Linked DNA regions of Homo sapiens. The gene in region 4 interacts genetically with the main gene of each other region. Each region holds a gene or a part of one and is shown on either strand. Other genes may lie near its edges.

What was found.
Region 1: changes in SLC39A3 (region 4) and TRAPPC13 together harm fitness more than expected from each alone (negative genetic interaction), as found in Homo sapiens cells (one large-scale study listed by BioGRID).
Region 2: changes in SLC39A3 (region 4) and MTF2 together harm fitness more than expected from each alone (negative genetic interaction), as found in Homo sapiens cells (one large-scale study listed by BioGRID).
Region 3: changes in SLC39A3 (region 4) and MAN1A1 together harm fitness more than expected from each alone (negative genetic interaction), as found in Homo sapiens cells (one large-scale study listed by BioGRID).
Region 5: changes in SLC39A3 (region 4) and B3GNT2 together harm fitness less than expected from each alone (positive genetic interaction), as found in Homo sapiens cells (one large-scale study listed by BioGRID).
Region 6: changes in SLC39A3 (region 4) and MAN1B1 together harm fitness less than expected from each alone (positive genetic interaction), as found in Homo sapiens cells (one large-scale study listed by BioGRID).
Region 7: changes in SLC39A3 (region 4) and MAN2A1 together harm fitness less than expected from each alone (positive genetic interaction), as found in Homo sapiens cells (one large-scale study listed by BioGRID).

What each region holds. Positions count from the first base shown.
Region 1 is NC_000005.10:65,659,527-65,663,026, reverse strand, and holds part of TRAPPC13 (trafficking protein particle complex subunit 13), read right to left. Parts: intron 2,329-3,500; coding exon 2,130-2,328; intron 978-2,129; coding exon 877-977; intron 1-876.
Region 2 is NC_000001.11:93,131,283-93,134,782, forward strand, and holds part of MTF2 (metal-response element-binding transcription factor 2), read left to right. Parts: intron 1-2,420; coding exon 2,421-2,526; intron 2,527-2,645; coding exon 2,646-2,698; intron 2,699-2,808; coding exon 2,809-2,913; intron 2,914-3,500. UniProt on the Homo sapiens protein: Polycomb group (PcG) protein that specifically binds histone H3 trimethylated at 'Lys-36' (H3K36me3) and recruits the PRC2 complex, thus enhancing PRC2 H3K27me3 methylation activity.
Region 3 is NC_000006.12:119,203,262-119,206,761, forward strand, and holds part of MAN1A1 (mannosyl-oligosaccharide 1,2-alpha-mannosidase IA), read right to left. Parts: intron 1,622-3,500; coding exon 1,498-1,621; intron 1-1,497. UniProt on the Homo sapiens protein: Involved in the maturation of Asn-linked oligosaccharides. Progressively trim alpha-1,2-linked mannose residues from Man(9)GlcNAc(2) to produce Man(5)GlcNAc(2).
Region 4 is NC_000019.10:2,737,218-2,741,298, forward strand, and holds the start of SLC39A3 (zinc transporter ZIP3), read right to left. Parts: upstream 2,801-4,081; 5' UTR 2,728-2,800; intron 163-2,727; 5' UTR 41-162; coding exon 1-40. UniProt on the Homo sapiens protein: Transporter for the divalent cation Zn(2+). Mediates the influx of Zn(2+) into cells from extracellular space. Controls Zn(2+) accumulation into dentate gyrus granule cells in the hippocampus.
Region 5 is NC_000002.12:62,194,726-62,198,914, reverse strand, and holds the start of B3GNT2 (N-acetyllactosaminide beta-1,3-N-acetylglucosaminyltransferase 2), read right to left. Parts: upstream 2,801-4,189; 5' UTR 2,560-2,800; intron 1-2,559. UniProt on the Homo sapiens protein: Beta-1,3-N-acetylglucosaminyltransferase involved in the synthesis of poly-N-acetyllactosamine. Catalyzes the initiation and elongation of poly-N-acetyllactosamine chains. Shows a marked preference for Gal(beta1-4)Glc(NAc)-based acceptors.
Region 6 is NC_000009.12:137,106,834-137,109,683, forward strand, and holds the end of MAN1B1 (endoplasmic reticulum mannosyl-oligosaccharide 1,2-alpha-mannosidase), read left to right. Parts: intron 1-416; coding exon 417-614; intron 615-697; coding exon 698-829; coding exon of another isoform or gene 830-1,129; exon of another isoform or gene 1,130-1,545; intron 1,546-1,554; coding exon 1,555-1,758; 3' UTR 1,759-2,350; downstream 2,351-2,850. UniProt on the Homo sapiens protein: Involved in glycoprotein quality control targeting of misfolded glycoproteins for degradation.
Region 7 is NC_000005.10:109,783,927-109,787,426, forward strand, and holds part of MAN2A1 (alpha-mannosidase 2), read left to right. Parts: intron 1-817; coding exon 818-1,000; intron 1,001-3,500. UniProt on the Homo sapiens protein: Catalyzes the first committed step in the biosynthesis of complex N-glycans. It controls conversion of high mannose to complex N-glycans; the final hydrolytic step in the N-glycan maturation pathway.

The DNA.
Region 1 (3,500 bases), on a different chromosome or scaffold from region 4:
AATAATTCCAGTCCAGTGAGAAAGAGACTAATACTTACAGTAATATATGAGTGTCACTAAATACACAATATATGAGTGTCACTAAAAAACTAAGTTAAAATTTTCTATGATGGAGAAGGCATGAATACCTGTGCTTTGGAAAGTCTAGGTAGCTTCATAGAGGAAGTGGGTATTTCTGTAATTTTGAAGGATAAATATTTCCTATCTTTCTAATACCAAAAAGAATAAATATGGAATTAAAAGGATTATACATTCACACTAAGAGGACTAGGATTCATCACTGCAATATTATAAAAATACCCCAAATAATAATACAAACCAAGTGGTAATACAAGTAGGAGCAGAGGGCATAGGACTGGAACTTAATTCTATTTTTTTCTGGTTTCAAAGCCCTGTGCTCTTTGCTTCCTGACAGTTCAGATTATGCTCTCTCTTTACTGTCAAAACCCAGTTTTCGAATCAATGATCTCCCCTTACATTAAATCCATAAGCAATGTTTGGTTTCTTAATACTCAAGATACAGCTCAAGTACAAGCATGCCTCAAAAAATCTTGCTACTTCAATTCATAATATATTAATACATAAGAACCTATTAGTTCATGTTTTGGTGAAGGAAGTATAAACAATGAATACCTACCTCATAGGGTGTGACAAATGAATGAAATAAAATACAGAAGATGCATAATACAATAGGCCCTTAAAAATATGTAATTATACTGCTACCAGATGAAGAATTTTACAGTACTCAATATCAACATCAGAGAAGGCTGTATGTCAAGAGGAAAACTTAAAAGGAGATAGTAACAAAAAGATTTTAAAATTATCTTCTAGGCAGGTGAGGTAGAAAGGACATCCATCTACAAACAGTGGCATTACCTGCAGTTTGTTATTTTACAGGTAATATGAAAAGGTTCTTCAAGGTTTACGGTATCTGGTATTGCCTCCAAAGACAACCTAACATCTCCATAACCTGGAGCCTAAGAAAACAAGCAACACAGTTAATGTATATCTATCACAAAACCTTTCCATTTTAATGAAGGCACCACAGCAGCACATTTACTCAACAGCTGTTGGGTTTCCAAGCTGATGTTCTAAGAAAATACTTCTGATTCACTTTACTTGTCTCTCATTTTAAATTCTTTTGCAGCTACTGCCTGTGGAATAGCCTGGCAGACCTGGACTGTTTTTGTTATATAATTATTCCATGTTCAGTAGAGTTAAGATGAATCTCACAGGTAAGTAGTCAGTAAAGAAATTTCAGGGAGTTGAAGGGACACTTTCCAGATGCTGTAGCTTCTATGTGTGTAACTCTAAATAGGTAAAGTTATTTTCTAAAGAAAGAGGGGGATGATGTTGAAAGGAGCCAGGAAGAAAATCATGACTTTTTACAAGACGCACAGATGAGGATGGATTATAACAACACGAAGGCTTGGAACAGGCCATGGCAGAAAAATAACTAACGGCTATATTTAAGTGGGCCCAGGAATCATCATCATCATTTTTTAAAAATTATTGCCTCAAACAGTGGAAAGAAAAGTAAAATTTGGAATATGTCAAAACAGGTAATATTCAGCATAAAGGGAGGAGAATCCTGTCGTATATTCTTACAAGCATAAGAAAAAGAAGCCTGGTAGCTATCCCTACTCTCAGAGAAGAAATTAGGTAAAATATGCAACCAATGCTTATAAGATAACTTTAGTAGAACTCACCTTCTGAGGAGATGCCTCAGATTTTTAACATCTTAAAAATGGTAGGAACTGAGTAGGTGAATGAAGTAAGTCCAAGAGTTTCAGGACATTGCAAAATAGAAAACCTTAATGTGTTTGGAAATCAGAAGAAGAGTGAGCATGTGTTACCAAAGGAGAGACACTTAATAACAGTTATTTTAATTTCTGTGTGATAAAGAACACGTGTATTAAGGATAAATTAACATTTGACCATTTTTCATTCATGGCAACACCAGTCTTCGACCTACCTATCAGTGACACTATTAATCTTTTCTGCTCCAGTAGTAGTAATGCCTTTTATAGTGCTCCAATTTTTTACTGCTGGATGTAGAAAAAATTAAGTTGTTCTAACTACCTGTCTTTCACACACCAAAACCCCAGCGAAGTTTTTTCCAGACTCACCATTCTTTGAAGTTGGCTGGTCTGTAACCTTCCCCTTTCACCTAGATTTGTTTTCCATACTATATCCAATTTTCCAATTACTGTTACTCCCTTAATGATGCCTGCTTTTTCTGCAAATTCATTCTTTGGCTTTAGGCAGTATAAGTACTGGCGTGTATCCATTGGTTGCAAATATGCTCTTGACCCAAACGTAGACACACTGAGAGGGGTGGAGACAGAGACGGAGAAAATTCTCTAGCATCTTTTAAAAGAAAAACCATGGCTGTGATTGTTCCTTTGGATAGGAACTGGATGATGTACCCTCCAAAGATCAACAACAGAACATGTTAACGATTTCAATACAAATAAAAAGAACGTATACTGCAATGATTTATTTTTCCTTCATTTTTTTCAGTTGATATCGAAAATCTTGAGGTTCTTTATAGTAATTGGACCCCGAAAGGCAGGGGTCCCTTTTTTTTTTTTTAAATAATTTTAAGAGACAGGGTCTTGCTCTGTCACCCAGGCTGGAGTACAGTGGTATGATCATAGCTCACTGTAACTTCTAACTTCTGGGTTCAAGGAGGTTCTTTATAATAGAATGTAATATATTACTTATAAAATTGAACATGTATCAATTAACTGAAAAGTGCAACAGAAACCAGAACCTTAAGTATCCTGTCTCTTTTCTCTAAAATTATCAAAGATAAGAGTTTAGAATAATAAGAGACATACCATTCTAAACTAATTTTCAAAATGAACTAAAACATCTAGAAAAGAATGGAAAATTGTTTTCCTCAGTGAGGATGAAAGAGGCTATGAACTTTTCTGTGTGTAACCAACCTAAGAATATAAAAGCAAACTTTTCATTCCTAATTAAGAAATTCAGATGCTATCCCAAGCTATTACCTTCTTCTTCTTCTTCTTCTTTTTTTTTTTTTTTTTTTTTTTGTTTAAAATACAAGGTCTCTCTCTGTCACCAGGCTGGAGTACAGTGGTGCAATCATGGCTCACTGCAGCCTTGAACTTGTGGACTCAAGCGATTTTCCTGCCTCTCTCCCAAGGAGCTAGGAATGCAGGAGTGTACCACCATGCCCAGCTAAATAAAAAAAATGCCAAGTTGCCCAGGTTGGTCTAGAACTCATAGCTTCAAGCAATCCTCTGGCCTCAGCCTTCCAAAGGGTTAGGATTACAGGCATGAGCCACCACACCCAGCCTATTACTTTCTTATCTGTATTATTGTCAACTTTACATTTATTCTTCCTCTTTTAAATTAGCTGTGGAAAGGTGTATGTATTTCCTTTTCACAAAGTATTAAACCATCTATTCCTATGTCCTTTTCTTTTGATGTTGAGAGAGTATTTCTTTTTTTAAACCCACATTCACCCTTAC
Region 2 (3,500 bases), on a different chromosome or scaffold from region 4:
GTATATTAAAGTGTATTGAATGCTAGTGAGAGGTAGATTAAAATGAAAGAAAAATATTTATTGCATAAGGTATCATTTTGTTATTAGTGACCTTGATAAAAGGAATTTCTTTGAAGTGGTACAGATAGAAACCAGATAGGACTGGGTGAAAGTATGACTGAACCCAGCATTGCCAAATTTACGTGTCAAACTGGGCTTCTCCTGCGTATCAGGGACACAGGCAGATTCAAAATAATAACAGTAGTAAAGGAAAGGAGGAAAATAGGAAACTATCTTTAAGGATCCTGAATGAGAGGGGAGAAAATGGAAAGGGTATATGTCATCAACACCTAGAAGCTTTCCTATGTAGGGAGGCCGACAAATGGAATGGCAGCTGAAGAGGGGGATAGGACTAGTCAAATGATGGTTTTTTAAAATAGATGGGAGATAGTTGGAACCTGTTTTTGTGTGTAAGTAGGAATGATCCAGTGGAGAAGAGGAAATTGGTATAGGAGAGTAGAAGCCAAAAGAGAAGGGATGTAGAGCCTGAATGTGGGACTGGCCTTTTCTAGAAGGAGAAGCATCCTTCTGTTGAAATGGGGTGAAAGAGAAGATGGGTACAGATGCCAGTTCTGTTGTAGATTGGGCAGTTGGAAATTGACCGAAGTTCTTGCCTGGTAGCCTCCATTTTCTCGATGAAATATAAGGTAAAGATAGCTGAGAGACTTGTACAGAGAGGGGAATTTAAGGGTCAATTAAGGGTATGGAATAGTCATCTTGGAGATAAGGAAATTGACTGAAGTTCTTGCCTGGTAGCCTCCATTTTCTCGATGAAATATAAGGTAAAGATAGCTGAGAGGCTTGTACAGAGAGGGGAATTTAAGGGTCAGTTAAAGGTATGGAATAGTCATCTTGGAGATAAGGAAAATGTCATTACAAAGCCTTGACAATGAGTCCAGTTATATGAAGTTTGTAAGAAATTAGCTACTAATTAAGTTTTCTTTGAATGAAGGAAAGAATGCTTATTCTATCACTTTCAGATTTTGTCACTCAGATCCTTTGCTAGCAGTTGCCCATATTATGAATCAGAAAAAAAAATTCCACAAGCTTTTTCATTTCTATCATGATTGTGATAGGATATTCCCTTTGTGGTAGCTATCAGGTCATCTGATGCCACCAGATAAGGATTCAGCTGCTTTCTTTAAAGGCATCCTCAGTTCCTTCTGGACCTTGTGTATAAGTTGTTCCTTTTAGTTTGAGATTACTTTCTTTAGTCCAGGAGTCCTTTATAAATATTATGTTGATCATTTTACAAAAGAAATGGATATCCCATCCATCTTATTCTTGAGACTTTTGATTATAGCGTCTGGTTCTACTTTGTCCTTCTAGTTCCCCTACTTTCTCCTTCCTCATACTTCCACCTTTATTCCCTGACCTTTTTTGGCATCTGGAGGGATAAGTTTTTTTCCTACTTTCTCCATTCATCTCTTTCTAGGCTATTGTATAGTGTTCTTTTTTCTCTCCTTAATTGAAGTCTCCTGGACAATTTCCTCATAGCCCTCACTCCATTTTATTAGCTTGGCTTGTATACACATTTGTCACTTTCTAACTATATTGTGAACTCTTTAGCACAGGGAACACCTTTGTATCCATATTATCTAATATCATCTTTATATGGTAGCTATTGCTGAGTAAATGAAATAGATATTCTTTCTATATATATATTTTCTTTTTTTCTATAATTAGTGTCTTTGCCTATTGCACTTTTTTCCTTCCTATTGCTTGGTATTTGGCTTTATGTTTAAAAAATGGTTTTCTAGGTCTTTCTGATTTTTCCTTTTGAATGACTCCCTGAGAATATGAAGGATTTCTTACTCCTTTCTCCTTTACATTCTGCCACTCTGGGCTTCATTCTCTTTCTGATAGTGTCATTCAAGAATCTACATATATATCTAAAGGCAGCCTTTATGACTACTACAATGTTAACATAGATATTTCCTGACTCCATGAAGTTAACTGCTAAATTCATAGTCATTTTTAGTAGTAAATCCTTGAAACATCCTCCAAGTTGTAACCACCTAAAATTAAACTATATAATTGAGCTTTTAGGAGTTTTGAAATCTTCCATCCAGTATAATTGTCTGGTTTTTGTTGTTGTTTTTAAATCTTTAAGTGGTATATATTGTTCAGAATTATATTAAAGAGGACTTTCTTTAAACCTTTCATAATGTAAATATCTTTAAAGTCAAGAAATATTTATTTGGATTAGAATATATTATCTGTGCACTTGACTAAACTTGTGGATTCAACTAATATTTACTTTTTATTACCATTAATATAAAATAATAAAATATATGTATATGTGTCTAGTTACATACATAGAGTCAATGTCTTTGTTTTCTTTATGCAGAGATTAAATGCATAATGGTTTTCCATTTCAGGGAAGTAAGCAATGGCATAGAAAAAAAAGGAAAGAAAAAATCTGTAGGTCGTCCACCTGGCCCATATACAAGAAAAATGATTCAAAAAACTGCTGAGCCACTTTTGGTAAGAGGATATGTTGGTATATGTTCTCAAGAAGAAGGATGCATGAAATAACTGAGAAGCTAGTATTTTTTTCAGCTTACTTTAGAGACATGCTTTAAGTATATATTTTTATTTTCCAGGATAAGGAATCAATTTCAGAGAATCCTACTTTGGATTTACCTTGTTCTATAGGGTAAATAGAAAGTTATTTTCTCCCTTTCTAGGTTTTGTCTTTTGAGTAGATATTAATATTTGTTTGTTATATAATATAGTCGTTACACAATTTAAATTCTTTTGTCTCAGGAGAACTGAGGGAACTGCACATTCATCCAATACCTCAGATGTGGATTTCACGGGTGCTTCCAGTGCAAAAGAAACTACCTCGTCTAGCATTTCCAGGCATTATGGGTAGATATTTTACATTCTTATTTTTTTTACTTTTTTTACTCTAGATTTCTTTTCTTTGTAAAGTGTTGATTGAATAATTTTTTAGCAATTGAAAGTGATGTAAGTTGTGTCTATCAGCTTTTTGAGAGGTAATCCATATGTAGATCCCAATAGTTGTTAATATTCATTTGAAATATTTTTGCTTTCTAGAGTACAAATGTATTTTTCATGTTTGTGTGGAAATTTGCTGTGTACACAGAGAAAAAGTATACCATTGTTTAGAAGCTGTGCTCGTTAGGCTTTTTAATGCCTCTGCTACACAAGTGTTCTTTGCTTTAGGAAGATATGATTTTTTTTTTTCTTTTTAAGAGACAGATTCTCACTCTGTTGCCCAGGCTAGAGTGCGGTGGCACAATCATGGCTCATTGCAGCCTCAAACTCCTGGCTTCAAACAATCCTCCCATGTCGGCCTCTCTAGTGGCTGGGACTACAGATTGTGCCACCACACCTAAGTAATGCTTTTTTATTTTTTGTAGAGATGGTTTTGCTAATTTGCCCAGGCTGGTCTTGAACTCCCGATCTCAAGTGATCCTCCTGTGTTGGCCTTC
Region 3 (3,500 bases), on a different chromosome or scaffold from region 4:
CCTGGCAAGGCGGAGGTGTTTGAGCAGAATATTAAAGAAGTGAGGGAGTAGGCCACGTGGAAATGTGGAGGAAGAGCACTCGGAACAGAGAGAGGAGCAAGTACAAAGGCCCTGAGGAGACAGCAGGTTTGCAATGCTACTGAGGCCAGAGGTGAGGAGACAAAGGGGAGAATGTCAGCAGGTAGAGGAGAGGAGAGCCAGGGCCCAGGTCACCCAGGCCCCACAGGCCACAATAAGGGCATATTTTACTCTGAGTGTCATGAGAAGGCTGAGGGGGTGAGGAAGGGGTGGTCAGGTGGCTACTGTATGGTGTACATACAGTACACCAGGTGACCTGATGGATCCCAGATCAGGACAGCAGTAGAGGCAGTGAGACACCCAAAGGATTTCTTAGTGGACTGGGCCTGGGGTTTACCAAGAAGAAGAACCAGGAGGAGACCACTGGGTACAGTGAGATGTCATTTACCAAGATAGCAAAGACTGGAGAAGCACGTCTAGGCGTTAAGTCCGAGGCATTTTAAGTGGGACTTGTCTATCGGGCCTCTTAGTGGAGATGTTTAATAAACAGATATAGAGTCTGGAGTTCAGGGGACAGGTTGGGACTGAAATAATAAACTTGGAGTCTAGAGTATAGAGATGGTATGTAAAGCCCAGAGACTAGATGCAACAATGTAGGGAGTGAATATCAACAAGCAGAGGCACAGGATTGAGTGCTAGGGCTTTCCAATATTTAGAGGGTGGGGTGTTGAGGAGGACACAAAAAAGACAGAAGGAGCATCCAGCAAAAGAGGAGACAAACTGGGAGAGTATTACATGCCAAGCGCGAAGTGTATCTCAGGAACGAAGAACTGACTGTGTCGAATGCTAAGAGGGCAAGGAAGATGAAGGGGAGAATGGTAAGTGGCTTTGGCACTGTTGTGCTCACTGGTCACTGTGACAGGTGTGGCTGGGGGAAAAGTCCTACTGGAGCAGGTTCAAGAGACTTGAAAAGTAGACAACAGGGACGACTCTTTCAAGCAATTTTACTGTAAAGGGAAGCCAAAAAGCAGGTTGAAAATAAAAGTAGAGTGATGGGGGGAACATGAATTTATCCAAATATTTGGTTTGCTTTCGGAAAACGAGGGACCAATTCAGCTGCAACATCACATTTGTACGACACTTTCAGTCTGTCTTTCACATAGTTGGCTCATGCAGTGCATTTATTACTAAATATTTTTAGATAAGGAAACAAACTTCAGATGAGTTAAGTAACTAACTTAAGGTAAAGGGAACCAGAGGTGGAAGCTGTGCCCTCACATCCTGAACTAGAGTGGTGCACTGGAAAGGCTGTAGGTTTACAGTTTGGCTAAATGAAATGCTGCATGTTGCAAAACTTCAGAAAGAGCTATAACAAATTTGGTTATTATTTCCACTTCAAAAATTCCTAAACCTTCTCAGAGACAATACTGTTTCTCATAAGTGTTGCTTTGCAGGCCAAGGCACATTGAAGAATCTCACCTTTTCAGCAAAGATGGGGTTTCCTGATAAGTGGCTCAAGTGCATAAACTCCAAATGCAGGGTTCCAAATTCTGCCAGAATACTGCTGCCTCCAGAGGCCCAGGGCCAGTTCCTTCCAATACCACTAAAGAAGAGATGACGTCGAAGAGTTATGGGTCAGATTAACTCCGTTTTTCACTATCTAAATAGCAGACATGAAATAGACAGCTTTTAAAAAAAGGCATCCTAGCTAATAGTCCACTCTAGATATTATAAAACCAAGCACTGTCTTCTTTGGCTACCAGTTTTAGGGTTTGTCTCCTATCTCCAAATTGAAAATTACTGTTGACTTAATTTAGAAAAAAGCTGCTGAGTACTTGCTGTTGGTGAACACACAAATCTTTTGGAAAATACAGGTGCTATATAGATGCATAACCATTCCACATAGAATATAAAAGAAAATCTGACCAAAACACTCCCACCATGCCCAAATGCCACATAAAGCTCTTCAACATTTTAATTTCAGCCTAAGAGACCAAGGAATTTTGGACATTCACATTATATACAAAATTTTATGTGGATAGAAGATAAATTTCAAAGATTCACTAATTATACACTCACTTCATCCCTCTCCAAATCTTCCTGCATTTACCAGACTTCCTTTCTTACGTGTATCTTCACACTATTTTATCTTTTTCTAAGCATATTACCTAAGGTGCTAACTCATTCTGTACTCTATATAACCTATGATCAAGAATCTCAACAAAATTATGTTATAAAAATCTGGAAAGGTGAAAGCCATGAGCTTCAGAAATTACTGCTTCATGGCCTTTCTTGGAGAAATGCTTTTTTAAAAAACTAGGCCTTTTAAAAAAGTTATAAACATACATACATACAAATACACATAAAGTGACTCCTGAGACATGGCAGTACTCTTGGGTACAGTTTATTTCTGAAGAGCCACTTAACACTTCAAGAAAGATGTGGTAATTCAAAAGAATAAAGTTCGTTATTCTCCTAATAAATTCCCTTTCTGATAGCTAAAATCCTACACTTTTAGTTTAGATGCACATTTAGTGCATGCCTACTATTTGCTAGGACTATACATGGCATTGGGTTACAAGCATGGTTATGATAATCAATCACTTTTTCTCAAAGACCTAATAGTGCAATGACAGAACAAGAACTAAGCATAAATAGTTCCAATCACACATGATGAATGCCGAGATAAATGTGTGAAGAGTTCTCTGAGCATCTAAAGCTGGGACACACAATCCAGCGTAGTGGGGATGGATCACAGAAGACTTCTTCAAGGAAGAGACTCCTGAGTTGATTCTTGAAGGGCAAGTACGAGTTGGTGAGGAAAAAATGATGAGAATCTGGGCAAGGGAGAACACACGAGCAGAGGGGCTGGCCAGGAACCAGAGGCAGCTGTTACACTGCAGAATGGAGGAAAGGAAGGTTGGTGGGAGAGAAGGCTGGAAGGACAGGTTGGAGCCAGGTCTTAATGGCTTGTGGAATTCTTGCTTTCCTCTCTTTCTAAGGTAGACCCCATCAAAATGCTCTTGGTGTCCACCCCCACTTTGTTTTTTGCCATGTATCAGTCACAGCTCTGGGTAAACCCTTTCAGTCCTGTCCTGGCGTCTGCTGCCAGGCTGCTGAGGAAGAGAGAAACCATGAGGATTACTGGCGCTTGCAGTCCTGGGCTCGCCTCACTCTCACTTCCTGCTCCTTTCTACAGCAAAACCTAGAGTTTCCTCCAAAACACTGATATACAGTACATCTAAGAAAAAGTAAAGAGAAATAAGACACAGAGATCTGAAAATGATATATTCATTTATTTTACAAAATGCCCTAAATTTATTAGGCTCTGGGAATGTGAGTCAGGTTTTATTTTCATAGTTGGCTTATAAAAAAGAATTTCCAATCATCCAAATAGGATGAATAGCTACTTTCAAAGTTTACTAACATATGGCAAATGCACATGGTAATTGGTCATTAACTAGTTGTCATGACATATCACT
Region 4 (4,081 bases):
CCACCATGCACAGGATTTTGGCCACTAGCAATTTCACCATGGTGGCGGCTTGGGCTGCTCTGGTCACTGCAGGGCCAAACCATCTGTGGGCGCACACCCAAGTCCCACGATGTGCTACCGAGCCCAACCACACAGTTGGAGGCTCATGTCTCAGTCCAGCAACTGTGAACATCAGGGGCACTGCATTAGCTTTCTTTCTTTTTTCTTTTTTTTTTTTTAGACAGAGTCTCGCTCTGTTGCCAGGCTGGAGTGCAATGGTGCAATCTCCGCTCACTGCAACCTCCGCTTCCTGGATTCAAGCAATTCTCCTGCCTAGTAGCTGGGATTACAGACACGCGCCACCACTCCCAGCTAATTTTTTTTGTATTTGTAGTAGAGACGAGGTTTCATCATGTTGGCCAGGCTGGTCTCGAACTCCTGACCTCGTGATCCGCCTGCCTCGGCCTCCCAAAGTGCTAGGATTATAGGCGTGAGCCACTGCACCTGGCCAGTTCTTCAGTTTTGGAACTCGGACTGGCTCTCTTTGCTCCTCAATCTGCAGACAATGTATTGTGAGACCCTGTAATCGTGTGCAATTAATACTTAATAAACTTCCCTTTATATATATAACTATTCCATTAGTTCTGTCCCTCTAGAGAACCCTGACTAATACACTGTCTCAAAAAAAGAAAAAAGTTCATCAAAATTAAAAAAAATCCAGGCTGGGTGTAGTGGCTCACACCTGCAATCCCAGAACTTTGGGAGGCCGAGGTGGGTGGATCACCTGAGGTCAGGAATTCGAGACCAGCCTGGACAACATGGTGAAACGCCGTCTCTACCAAAAATACAAAAATTAGCCGGCCGTGGTGGCAGGCACCTGTAATCCCAGCTACTCTGGAGGCTGAGGCAAGAGAATCGCTTGAACCCAGGAGGCAGAGGTTGCAGTGAGCCAAGATGGCACCACCGCACTCCAGGCTGGGCAACAAGAGCAAAACTCCATCTCAAAAAAAAAAAAAAAAAAAAACTAAATAAAATACAAAATTCCGCTCCTCAGTCTCCCTGGCCATATTTCAAGCGCTCAGTAGTCACACAAGCCTACTTGACTTCTGTGGTTACCGTATTTGACAGCAAAGGGAACACTCTCATCACTGCAGAACATGCTATTGGATGGTGGTGGTCCATGGCTTCCCCATGCCCCGAAATAAAGTCTAAACTCTGTACCCTGAGGCTGAAGCTCTGCATGACAAGCTCCTGCCTCGCCTCGGCCCTCACTGGTCCTTTCTGTGCCAAGCTTGCTCGTGCCTCAGGACCTCTGCATGGGTTCTCCTCTCTCCACCTGGAACACTGCTCTCTTTCCCCTGACCTTCCAGCGAGGCCTCCTTCTTCTTTCTTGCTTCTCTGCATCCAGGACCCCTCAAAAGGGCCTCCCTCGGTTGGGAGTGGTGGCTCACACCTGTAATCTCAGCACTTTGGGAGGCTGAGGTGGGCAGATCACCTGAGGTCGAGAGTTCGAGACCAGCACCTGAGGTCGAGAGTTCAAGACCAGCCTGGCCAACACAGTGAAACACTGTCTCTACTAAAAATACAAAAATTAGCTGGGTGTGGTAGTGGGCACCTGTAATCCCAGCTACTTGGGAGGCTGAGGCAGGAGAATCACTTGAACCCAGGAGGTGGAGGTTGCAGTGAGCCAAGATCAAGCCATTGCACTCCAGCCTGGGTGACAGAGTAAGACTCTGTCTCAAAAAAAAAAAAAATTAGCTGGGCATGGTGGTACGTGCCTGTAATCCCAGTTACTCGGGAGGCTGAGGCAGGAGAATTGCTTCAACCCAGGAGGTGGAGCTTGCAGTGAGCCGAGATCGCGCCATTGTACTCCAGCCTGGGCTGCAGAGCAAGACTCCGTCTCAAAAAAAAAAAAAAAAAAAAAAAAAGGGCCTCCCTCTCTGCCCCTGGCTGACTCCTGCCCTAAACCATATCCCTGTACCCGCCGGAAGGCCTGCTGCAGAACAGATACTCAAAAACCGCTGGCTGAACACATGGACGAGGGGAAGCGTGTGGCCACTGATAAGGGCCGCATTTTACCTGATGCAATGGGCCAAAGTGAAGTCGGTTTCACCCTGGACCCCAAAATGTCACCGTTCTTAGGAGGAATCTCAGCTCCTCCCCTGTCCTTGAGTTTTCCCCAACTGGGTTTTCTCCCCCACCATCAGCCCCAAGCGCCTCATGGCCCCGCTACCTCACTGCATTCAGGTCTTCGGGTCACTGCTCAGATGTCTCCACTCAGAGCTCTCCCCGCCCCCTTCCCTGGTGTTATTTTCTTTTATTTTGTGCTACAGAGGGAGCTAGGAATTACATTATTTTAAGTCATTTAAAGTCGTCCCTCCCCCCCGGCGGTGAGCTGGGCGGGACCAGGCTGTCTGTCTTGCTCAGGGCCAGCTGCACCCAGCGCAGAGCCACCCAGGCACACAGTAGGCGCCCAATAAAGACCTGTCCGGCATCTGGATACCTCAGTCTGTACAGTGAAGGTGAGGGTGGCCTGCACGCTCTCAAACCGGAGGCTGCTCGGGCCGGGATGAGGAGGGCACGGGCTCATTCATTCAATCAGCACTTATTGAGCGCCTTCTGTGTGCCTCGCGCTACCGGGCACCGGAGACGGGCCTCGGCTAACGTGCGGGTAGAGTCCAACAGACCCCCGGCCGCTCAGCGCCGCCCCGCCCCGCCGCCCCAGGTCCTCTCTCTGCCCGCACCTACCTCCCGGGGGCCCCTCGTCCGCCGACTGGCGCCGCTGCACGCCCAACGGCCGCGCAGTCTCGACCCCACAGACGCGGCCCGGAGAGGCCCCGCTCGGCGCGGCTGGTCCACGCCCCGCCCACGCCCCTGCCCATTGGCCTCCCCGAGACCCGCTGGCAGAACTTTCCATACTATTGGCTGCGAAACCTGCCACTCATATGCGACTCCACCTCTCCTACCGGCACAGGAAAGGGGTTTCCTCCCGCTGAGCGGCGGGCGCAGCCACCAAGCGGCCCCGGCGGGAAACCCGGATTGGCGAGGAACGGTTCCGGCAGGGTTGGGTTTCCAGAGCTGTCCAGGGGCGCCTGGTGCTGAATCCCGCTTGGAAAGAGGCTTGGAGGTGGATGGGAAGGGATTTCCAACGGAGGCGGCTCCTCTCTCAGCGTCCTCGCTGCTGATCCCCTTACCGACGGCTGAAGAAGCAGATTCATCCCTTCAACAAATCTCTGTTGATAGGCAGGAGGAGTAAGTCCAAGAGATCGACTGTACATCATGGTGGCTACAGCTCGTAACAATGCATTGCATACTGCAAAATTGCTAAGAAAGTAGATGTTACATGTTCAAACCATGAAAAAATAAGTATAGGAGGTAACGCGTAAGTTAAAAACCAAATCTTGGCAGGGCGCAGTGGCTCACACTTGTAATCTCAGCACTTTAAGAGACCGAGGCGGGAGGATCGCTTGAGTCCAGGAGTTCAAGGCCAGCCTGGGCAGCATAGTGAGACCCCATCTCTAAAAAAAAAAAAAAGGTTTTTTTTGAGACAGAGTCTCGCTCTTGTCACTCAGGCTGGAGTGCAATGGCGCGATCTTGGCTCACTGCAACTTCCGACTCCCGTGTTCAAGCGATTCTCCTGCCTCAGCCTCCCGAGTAGCTGGGATTATAGGCGTGTGCCACTATGCCGGCTAATTTTTGTGTTTTTAGTAGAGACGGGGTTTCACCATGTTGGCCAGGCTGGTCTTGAACTCCTGACCTCAGGTGATCCTCTTACCTTGGCCTCCCAAAGTGCTGGGATTACAGGCATGAGCCACTGCGCTTGGCCTGATGACTTGATTCTAACAAATAGAAAATGGCAAATGAATGGGATGTCATTCTGCGATTAGGCTATGAGAGATTGTGACTTCTGTTTTGCCAGCAGAGCCTGTCTCTCGCCTTCTCAGCCTACGTGTCTTGACAAAGCAAGCTAAGATGCTGGAGAGATCCAGAGGGAAAGGAACTGAGGGTGTCCTCCAGCCAACAGTCAGCAAGGCAATGAGACCCTCAGCACAAGCGTCCATAAGGAACCAAATGCTACCAACAGCCATGAACGTGATCATGG
Region 5 (4,189 bases), on a different chromosome or scaffold from region 4:
AGAAACAGAAGATTCACCTTTTCTTTTATCCCTGCATCAGCTGAAAAAGCCCTGCATATTTCTCTTCAGAACATACCAACGATGCCTCACTAATGCAACTATTTTTTTTAAAAAAAACCACATATCTGAACAGTATAGTCAAAATCAACTATGAATTATCAGTTCTACTTTCCTATTTTTAGCACAACTTTAGTTTATCAGAAACCTAAAACATGACTTTTCTTTAAAACAAGAAAATTTTCAAAACTACAAACCTTCATATATTCAGCCCTTCACCAGAAGCCCAGAAAAAAATTCATAATTTTTGAACAACAAGCAAATCATGCTTATTTTCCTCAAAATACTACTTAGGTTTTAAGAACCTTCTGATGTGCATCTGCCAAATGTGGCTGATTTCAGTCTCAGACAGGGAAATCTAAAAGGCTACCACAGGGTTACTGTTTTTGGTAAGGGGAAGTCGATGCCAGGAGGAACTTCTCTATTGATTACAGCAATGACCACCATTTATTAAGCACTTCTTAGCTCTCCTGGTGCAGTGCTAGGAGTTTGGCAAACATCCTATTTGTCCTCAGAAATAATCTTGCAGAGCAAACACCACCATCCCCAAAACCAGATGTGTAAAATGAGGCTCAGGTGAAGAATAACTTGCCCAAGATCACTGAATTAAATGTGGCAGAATCAAGTCTAATGAATGGCAAGGGTGAGAACTGGTCAGTTTCACAGAGAATTAGGCCTTCATCATACAAATGCCGCCTGCACAAAAACTAAATGAGAAACAGTGAACCCTTGCTGTAGGGAGAAAAAGCAATATTCCGAACTAAAAAAGTAGTTTCAAACAGAAGATCTAATGATAAACACATTTGTAAAGTCTGAGCAGGGAGGAAAAGGATTACTCAAATTACTCAAGTACAGCCCTATGGGGCTCCTTCACTTCTGTGTTCTTAAAATCTAATCTGGTTTAAGAGCGCATGGGCTCCGAGTAAAACTCTCCCAAATTCCTCCAGGCTTAACCACCCTCTACTCAAAAGAACCAGGAGCAGGAGTTAGGACAATGGGAAGTGACCGCCCTGCCCTGCCCTGCCGGTCCTCCCTCCGGGTCAGCTGTCAGATCCGCATGGGTGCGACTATAAGCCGGCACCGGAGCCCCGGGACTGGCTCGGCCAGGGTCCCCGCCTTTTCACTCCCAGTCCCGGCCCTGTCGGCCACCTCGTTTACCACCTCCAGAGGCACAAATAATTATACCGGAAGAATTTGTTTTAACAAGTAGAATTCTATATTCACCAACTGGCTTCGCTATCGGATATTACGGTAGGGTTCCAACAAGAGAAGGGCAAAAGAATATAGTTTAATTGTTCTAAACAATCTTTCTGAGAAGTTGGGGTGGCTGAGGCGGCCACGGGGATACAGCTCAGGCACCTGTGAGCTAAGCCCACTCTACAAACTAACCACCCCTACGTTTTGGGCAGAAGAGCGCCGCCTCGCCAACCCAGGTTATAAATGTACATATTTTTAAAGATGAGCTTTGACGCTGTGACACTTGTGGGGAGTCTCCCGACGGCTCCTCTACTTGATGGGGGTACAGGGAGTTCTGCGGCTCCCCAGCCCCGAGTTTCAAATACCGTGGCCTGGAAATTAACCGGGTGACTCGGTTTATTGCCTCCAGAAGGGTCCGCCTGCCGTGCTGGAGTAGCCGCCAGTCCCGCGCCCGCAGCCCCGGCAGGGCCCCCCACGCCCACCTTCCCACGAGGGGTGTCTCGTAGAGTCCGGCTTCAGGCGCTCCCTGGCCTGGCAGCACCCACCCCACCCCGCCCCACCCCACCCCCACGACTCGGGCTAGCAGCCTGGTTAATCATTCAACGCAAACAGTGTGGAATATTTTTTTTAAAAGGTCAAAGCGAAAGGTTTTCCCTAAGTTTGGCAGAAACCAGTTTTGGGGGAGCCGGAGACAGAAGTGGCAGAGGTTGGGGGTGGGGGGTGGGGAGCGGCTGCCGGCGGCTCTTTGGCTCACAAAACACCTGATCTCCCCATGCGGCACGGGAGGCCGGCGCAGTGCGAGGGTGGGGTGCGGGGGTGCGAGCGAGGAATCACGCGCGCCCCCCTCCCCGAAATGCCCGCGCGCCCCGGATGAGGAGGCCCGGCCCCAGATGCCCCTTGCCAAAGCCCGCATCGCCCCGGCGCCGGATCCCCCGGAAGTTGGGGTGCAGCGAGGAGGGGGAAGGTCCCCGGGCTCCAGGGCGAGGTGGGCACGGAATGGGTTGGGAGGTTCCAAAGCCCCGCAGCGGGCGGTGTCCCTCTCCTCTCCCTCTGGGCTGAGGTTGGGTGGCTGGGACGGCGGGAAGGTAAGGGAGGCTTAAATGCGGCAGGAGCCACCTAGGGACGGCTTCCTCCACCGGGGCGCGGGTACGAAGCCGGAACCGGCGAGGAACCGGGCGGGGGTAGCAGGGTGTCCGGAAGGTGGGGCCGGGAAGCAGGGAGGCGGAAGGGGACTGGTAGAGGGGCCTGGCGGTGAGAGGGCAGCGGGGAGGGAGCCGGCGGGGGTGCTCGGCGCCCGGGCCCTACCTTGTCCGGGAGCAGCTCCAGCTCGGCGGGGCGGGGGCAAGGGCGGGAGATCGCGGCCACATCCACGTCCCGGCCGCTCCGCGCGGCTCAGCCCGGCGACCGCCGCAGCTCACGCTCCATGCGCGGCGCCCCGGACGGGCGGCCCGGCGGTGTCGGCGGCAGGGACTGCTCCGGCTTGGCTCTGCTAGCCTCCGGCACTTGTTGCCGCTGCTGCCGCTGCCGCTGCGCCTCACTCCAGGCTCCGGTTCCAGGCGCAGCAGCCGCCGCGGGCGCCCGGCCCCGCCCCTCCCCTGCCCGCCCGCCAATGGGGCCCGGCCCCGCCCCTCACGTCACCGCCCGACGGCCCCGCCCCGCGCCCCAAGTTTTGGGAGGGTTCCGCTCTCCCCACCCGGTACCAGGACCCACCCGGGCCCGCGCTCCCTGCGGCTTCCAGGGACCCTCCAGCCCCCACGCACCCTCCTGCAAAGCCGAGGGTTAAGCTGGGGAAAGGGGGCCTCTAGGAAGGCGACCCCCCTGGAAATGCCTGGCAGCTCCAAAAACACTAATGAAACTCAGCTCCAGCCTCCGCCCCTCCAGTTGTGGGTGGCCCCTCTTGCGGTTCGTCTGAGGCTAGGGGACTAGGCGCATCGCCTAGCGAGACTCCAGTGGCCTTTTCTGTCCAGTTTGTAACCGGAACTAGACCGACCCCGGCCGCCCCCTCCAGTGCTGGGGCGGGTGAGGAATGGCCCCGCCGGGGAGGCGGGGGAGGGAGGCCTGGGCCACCCTGGGGTCTGACCTTTGCTCCACCTCTTAGGTGCTCACGACCCAGAGTGGTGCCCTGCTTGGTACTGCCACTGGATCCTCTGGCTTATGAAGCCGTCCAGGACAGGAAGGGTGGGGGGTGGTCCTTAGTTCTCTTCGTGGGGTCATGCAGAGTGGTTTCCTCGAGGTCCCACGCCCGTCTCAGGAAGCCAGAAACGCAAGATGCCGGGCGCTCGGCCCGAACCCGTGCCGCGGCCCAAGGGGCAAGGCGGATACCGAGGCAAGGCCTAAAGGGCCGGACTCTGACCGCACCCTCCGGACACTGCAGGGCTCCGCCGGCCAGAGGCGGCCTTGGCGCCAACCACACCTAGCAGCGGGGTCCCCGGGCCCACCGATGCGCCCTCCTAGCCCCGCGCTCCTTCGAGGGGTTCCAAGGTGACTCAGAGACGCAGCTGACACAATTCTGAGGCCCCCAGGTAAGCCTGGCGATACCGGATGGAGAAGTTACCTGGTCTTGAAAGGCCCAGTCCAGCCAGCGAGACCCGCGTGCGCTCCGCGGGGAGGCAAGCCTAACCAGGGGCTCACCTGGAAGCGTCCCCGCCCCCTGGTCCTTATCTCTGAATCGAAACCGAACCTGGACCCATCTAGATAATTGGACTGAGCAATTAAGGACGCTTCGCTCCTAACTGTTAGCATTTTTTCCTAAGGCTCTCGGAGGCGGAATCAGCTGGAAAGGAACATTGCTAAGTAGGAATTTCAGGCACCTGTGAACTGAGCCCACTCAATAATCGGCCCTTTCCCTTAACCAAACTCAGCAAAGGAAGAAAGACCAAGTTGCTGCGGATGCACAGAGCCACGTGGGTGCGGGTCCTCTAGAAACAGGAATTCA
Region 6 (2,850 bases), on a different chromosome or scaffold from region 4:
GGCCGCCGCCCCTTTTACCTTGGCTTCCAAGGTGCCTGAGTCATGATGTCAAAAAGAACGAAATCCTGGCCATGGCGCCCACGTGGAGGCCCTGGGTGGACCGTGGCTGCCTGGCCAGGCCTGTCTTGGCAACAGGGCAGTAAGGCCTTGTGTGGCACCTGGGGTGGGCAGGGCTTCCCCAGGGCAGCTCCCTCCCCGTGCCCGGTGTGTAGCAGGTCCTCGGGCGGTGTGTGGGGGCCGGGTTGGAGGGCCTGGTCCAGGCAGCTCCGCTGTTCCATGCCAAGTGCCCTCGCGTGGCCTCCCCTCCCAGGGTACCAGGGCCGAGGCAGCGCTGGGCTCCCACGTTGGCTGCCCGTGCAGCTGCAGGCTGAGGGCAGGGCCTGGGATCTGGGGCTGAAGAGACCCTCTGATTCCAGGACCACCTGGTGTGCTTCCTGCCAGGGACGCTGGCTCTGGGCGTCTACCACGGCCTGCCCGCCAGCCACATGGAGCTGGCCCAGGAGCTCATGGAGACTTGTTACCAGATGAACCGGCAGATGGAGACGGGGCTGAGTCCCGAGATCGTGCACTTCAACCTTTACCCCCAGCCGGGCCGTCGGGACGTGGAGGTCAAGGTGGGCCTGGGCCTGGGTCAGGGTCCATCAGGAGGAGGGTGCTGGCAGGGCTGGCCTTGCCCTGAGCTCTGCTCCGCCCACAGCCAGCAGACAGGCACAACCTGCTGCGGCCAGAGACCGTGGAGAGCCTGTTCTACCTGTACCGCGTCACAGGGGACCGCAAATACCAGGACTGGGGCTGGGAGATTCTGCAGAGCTTCAGCCGATTCACACGGGTGAGCACCTGTCCTCGCCCCGCGTGGTCACGGCCACCGGGCCACAGGCACGGCTGGGCTGTGGGGCTCAGGCTGGCTCCGCTCTTGGTGGTGGCTGTGACCTGGATCCGGGAGGGGCGGGCTTGCCGCAGCCTCGGGGTGGCCACACTGCAGCTTGGGGGCCCTGGCATCCCCATCCCCACTGAGCTTCATGGTTGTGGGACCCAGAGTACTTGGAGGGGCTGGGCACCCCTCATTTTCATTTCTCAGGGCCTGTCTAGGGAGGGTCTCTGCTGTGGGCCCAGCATCCCCCCAGTTTAGGAGGCACACGCACCCATGACTGGGGCACCATCCCCACTGTGGACCAGGCCCTGTTTTAGGTCACGCCCTCCACGCCAGAGTGTCACTTCCTGGCTCTGCTGTGATCTTGGCCTGAGGCCCCCGCTGCCTCCGCTCCCACCGTCTGCCCTGTGCCCTGTGCCCTGTGCGGCAACTGTGAGGCCCCCTGAGCCCAGGTTCTGGGGGAGGCGGTTTCTGTCGTGGTCACTTGAGGGTTGTTGGCATTTCCAGGTGGGCTCCGGTGGAACCACACGGCTCGCCTGGGGGTGGCCATCATCCAGGCGCCCTCCACCCTGAGCTTGCGCTGGGGGCCACATTCACCATGGGGTGGAGAGCGCTTCGGTGATGAGGCTGAGGGGGGTGCAGGGTGCCCCCCGTGTGGTGACGAGGCCCTGGCTGCTGCACAGGTCCCCTCGGGTGGCTATTCTTCCATCAACAATGTCCAGGATCCTCAGAAGCCCGAGCCTAGGGACAAGATGGAGAGCTTCTTCCTGGGGGAGACGCTCAAGTATCTGTTCTTGCTCTTCTCCGATGACCCAAACCTGCTCAGCCTGGATGCCTACGTGTTCAACACCGAAGCCCACCCTCTGCCTATCTGGACCCCTGCCTAGGGTGGATGGCTGCTGGTGTGGGGACTTCGGGTGGGCAGAGGCACCTTGCTGGGTCTGTGGCATTTTCCAAGGGCCCACGTAGCACCGGCAACCGCCAAGTGGCCCAGGCTCTGAACTGGCTCTGGGCTCCTCCTCGTCTCTGCTTTAATCAGGACACCGTGAGGACAAGTGAGGCCGTCAGTCTTGGTGTGATGCGGGGTGGGCTGGGCCGCTGGAGCCTCCGCCTGCTTCCTCCAGAAGACACGAATCATGACTCACGATTGCTGAAGCCTGAGCAGGTCTCTGTGGGCCGACCAGAGGGGGGCTTCGAGGTGGTCCCTGGTACTGGGGTGACCGAGTGGACAGCCCAGGGTGCAGCTCTGCCCGGGCTCGTGAAGCCTCAGATGTCCCCAATCCAAGGGTCTGGAGGGGCTGCCGTGACTCCAGAGGCCTGAGGCTCCAGGGCTGGCTCTGGTGTTTACAAGCTGGACTCAGGGATCCTCCTGGCCGCCCCGCAGGGGGCTTGGAGGGCTGGACGGCAAGTCCGTCTAGCTCACGGGCCCCTCCAGTGGAATGGGTCTTTTCGGTGGAGATAAAAGTTGATTTGCTCTAACCGCGATGTCGCCTGTGTCTTTAGGGATCTCCATGACTGGAAAGTCTGGGCGGACGTTGGGGAGAAGGTATTCTTCAAGTCACGTCTCAGAATTCGGTTTGCTGAGACTGGACTCTAGCTGTCCCCTGCTGGTGGGCAGGGAGAGGCCACGGGGAAGCTCCGTGTCCCTGGCCCCACGGGGCAGATGCTTGGCGGGAGGCATCCTTGCGCCTGCGTTTCACACAGGGCCTGTTTCCCTGCAGGGCTGGCACTGAGGCGCACAGCTGAGGGATACACGGGCCCTCAGGTCAGGCAGCTCCCAGCAGCCTGGCATGGCTATGGCCCCGAGCCCTGGGCTGTGGTGGCAGAGTTGTCCTCATCATCACTCTACTGCTGTCCCTATCCCAGGGCTGACCCTGGGCCTTGGCTGGGTTCCCCCCGACCCTGAACCAGGTGACCTCTTAGGACCACGCCCCCTCGCTCTCCCCTGTGAAAAATCCATCACCTTCACTTCCGGAAGA
Region 7 (3,500 bases), on a different chromosome or scaffold from region 4:
GTGATCCTAGTTCACTGCGGCCTCAAACTCTTGGGCTCAAGTGATCCTCCCACCTCAGCCTCCTGAGTAGTTAGGACTATAGGTGCATGTCACTACACCTGGCTAAGATAGAGTCTCTCTATGTTGTCCAGGCTGGTCTTGAACTCCTGGGTTCAAGTGATTTTCCTGCCTTGGTCTCCCAAGATGCTAGGATTACAGGCATAAGCCACCATGCCCAGCCGACATACTGTTTATCATCTTTCAGTTTGTATTGTTAAATTCTCTGTATTTGTTATATGTTATCATTCAAAACTGAAACTAACCCTTTCCCCTGAACTATTCTTGGGCCATTATTTTCTGCCTCTCCTCTCCTCTGAGTGTCCCGCTCACCGACCATGCCTTTCTTTCTCATTTCTCTTAATGTGTATATGTGAGAGTAAATGATATTCTGGTGATGTTCATGGTCTATGTGTGTGTTGCTCTTGGAGAGAAGAAAGGACAGAGAAATTTATCCAATTTTTCAGATTTTTTTCACTGTGCTATTCATAAATAAGCCTGTCTTGCTGCCAACAGGTTCTGGCTTCTTTTTCAGGATCATCTAGAACAAGGACTCCTGATACCAGTGTAGACATGGTATTCTTTGATGATTGAGAACGTAAATGTGTTATACGGGATACATTGGTTGTTTTATATGAACTATTATTACCAATATCTTTTTCATAAATTGCTTGTACTGCAATTATGGATTAAAAAATTTGTAAAGTATCAATGTCACAAGTTTTAGATTATAAGCTAAAGTGTTTGTTTTAAAATAAAAATATGACTTTTATGCAATTAGGGCTGCTGAAATTCTTTACTATTTCGCCCTGAGACAAGCTCACAAATACAAGATAAATAAATTTCTCTCATCATCACTTTACACGGCACTGACAGAAGCCAGAAGGAATTTGGGACTGTTTCAACATCATGATGCTATCACAGGAACTGCAAAAGACTGGGTGGTTGTGGATTATGGTACCAGGTAATCTAATTATAGAAAAATCATCTTTAAAAAAATCATTAAAATTATGGGTAATAAGATTATATCTTTTGGTGAAGTTGTTAGTGTATATCAAACCACATTAACAATGATATCCCTCATAAGTATTACTGTATCAAAACAGCACTGATATTCAAATATTAAGAAATCTGTTGACAGAGTCCCAGCTGCACCAACTTTTTATTGCAATGCATTTCTGCAAATAGGGTAGTAAAATATTATTACTACTGTTTAAAGCTGATCCTATTTTCTTCTAAATAACAGTGTGGAGACTGGAGTTATCTTCTTGACCAAGGACTTGGCATCAAATAAAACATAGTTATAATGTAGAGAGATAAAGATTCCTACTTCATTGTATGTCAGTTTAATCTCATCCTATTTCATATCCAATTGTTCTTGTATACTTCTTTTTTTTTTTTTAAGAGGCATATTGACATAATAAGCTGAGAAGCATAGCCAGGAAGGAAAAAGACCTATAAACCTTATCATATGTGGATGATATAAGCCATTGGGAATGAGAAAGGATGACCTGGGTGTTGGTATCAAAGCCATCTTTAACTCATTGAAGGGCTCTCAGATGGGCAAGGGAGTAGAAGCTAAGTTATTTCTATATTAAAGACTTTGAAACAATGAGTATAGGCATGGTCTGAGATAACAGAGGACTTGGCAAACAGAGCTTCCTAATAAGGGGGAAGAAATCTTACCTTTTGTAGTAGGGAGTTCTCTATCCTCACGCCAGCCTTTGGATGACCATTCATTCATTAGGATCAGTGCAGGGGGCATTCCTAGATTGGGGAAGGAGTTTTGACTATTTTATTTACTGTAGTTTAGACTATTCTTCCTGATACTGTTTATCAGCAGTGTTGTGCTTTGATAACATTTTAAAGTCATTTAAAATATACTGTGATTTTCTTAAAGAATAGATTTTAAAAGTGAATATCCTTAGTACTACTCCTTGATGAGAAAAGCGTATACAACACATAAAATCAATGTTAAAAAATTGACTCACGACTTATATTACTAATTGTAGTAAATGTTAATTAAATTTTTAGTTACAATATTTTGACTGGCTTTCTAGAAATTGGGGGAAAAAGATATTCTTGGGTTTTCATTAGTTGATTTCAGTCCTTAAAAAATGCATTCAAAGTAGTATCTTGAATATCTTCTCCATTTTTTAATGGCAAATATATATGACACCCACCTGTCGAGGTTGATCTGGGGTTAAAGTAGAAAACCCTCATTAGATGATAAAGATGGTATTTCTCCCACAGAAACCATTTTTGAAAGTAAGGTCAGATCCTCCTTTTTTCCTTCTTACCTGCTCCTGGCCTGCTTGGTTTGTTGAGAGTTTAAAAGTGAGACTGCTTAGAATCAGACCAGGGTAGAGCTCCTAAGAGGACATAGAAAAGTCATTTTCCTACACCGCCCACTTGCTATCTCTGGCTGTCATATCGAAAGAGATTTGCTTATAGGTCATTGAGCTTTGGCTACAGAAGATTTTTTGTATCTTGACCTGTCTGGAAGAGCTATCATTGGTTCCTCCATATGTTTTGTGTTGCTTTTAGCTTATAAAAACTTCCCCGTGTAGAATTGCGTGTTAGAGAAAAAAAGGTAGTAAGTCTCAAACTGTACTTGGCATTTGTAAATTTGCTATGTTAGTACTTCACAGTTCATTGAAAAGTCATAAACAATTACCAAGTCATTAGCACAGACATTTTAAGGAGGAAATTTCAAAACATAAGTTAGAGAATTATTAACAAAGAGGTAGTTAGTATTGGGTGTTCTCTTGAACTTGGACTGATGACTACTATTCATTCAAATTTGGCAGAAATATCACTGTGAACAAGTTTATGAATTAGGGGTGCATTTGGCTGCGAGTAATAGCAACCAGAAACAGAATAAATCCTGTCCTGCTTATTTTTATGTCATATGAAAAAAATCTGTAGACAACTGGTTCTGGTATGGCAGCTCTGCAGTGTCATCAGGCATTCAGGCCCTTCTTTCTCCTCTGCCATAGTAGGGGGAATCTGAGAGCATGCTGTCAACAATAGATCGAATGTGTATATAGTTACAAACTGGAAAGCAAGAATACATCATGGCATATTTGGAGATTAATTCTAATCATGGCATGAAAAAAATGAATTAGATTGGGACAATGTTTGTAATAGTCAGCTTAAAAGTATTAATAGATAATGTGGCTTATGTAGAAGGGAAGAAGAAATGGTAATGAGGTCATTTAGAGAAATGTTTTAGAATTCCGCTAATTATTCCTAACTTGTAATTAAGGTAGGTGGGAGAAAACGGAACACAGGGTGAGCGTGAGGGTCCTAAAATGTAGACAAACTATATAGTGGCAGACATGCTAACATCTCCTTAATACAACAACCATAACAGCAAACTAAGAAACTGTGATTCCCAAGTGATTTTTCCCGAACCGTATTCCGTATTAATAGGATAAGTGTATGTTTGGAAATTAGAGGCC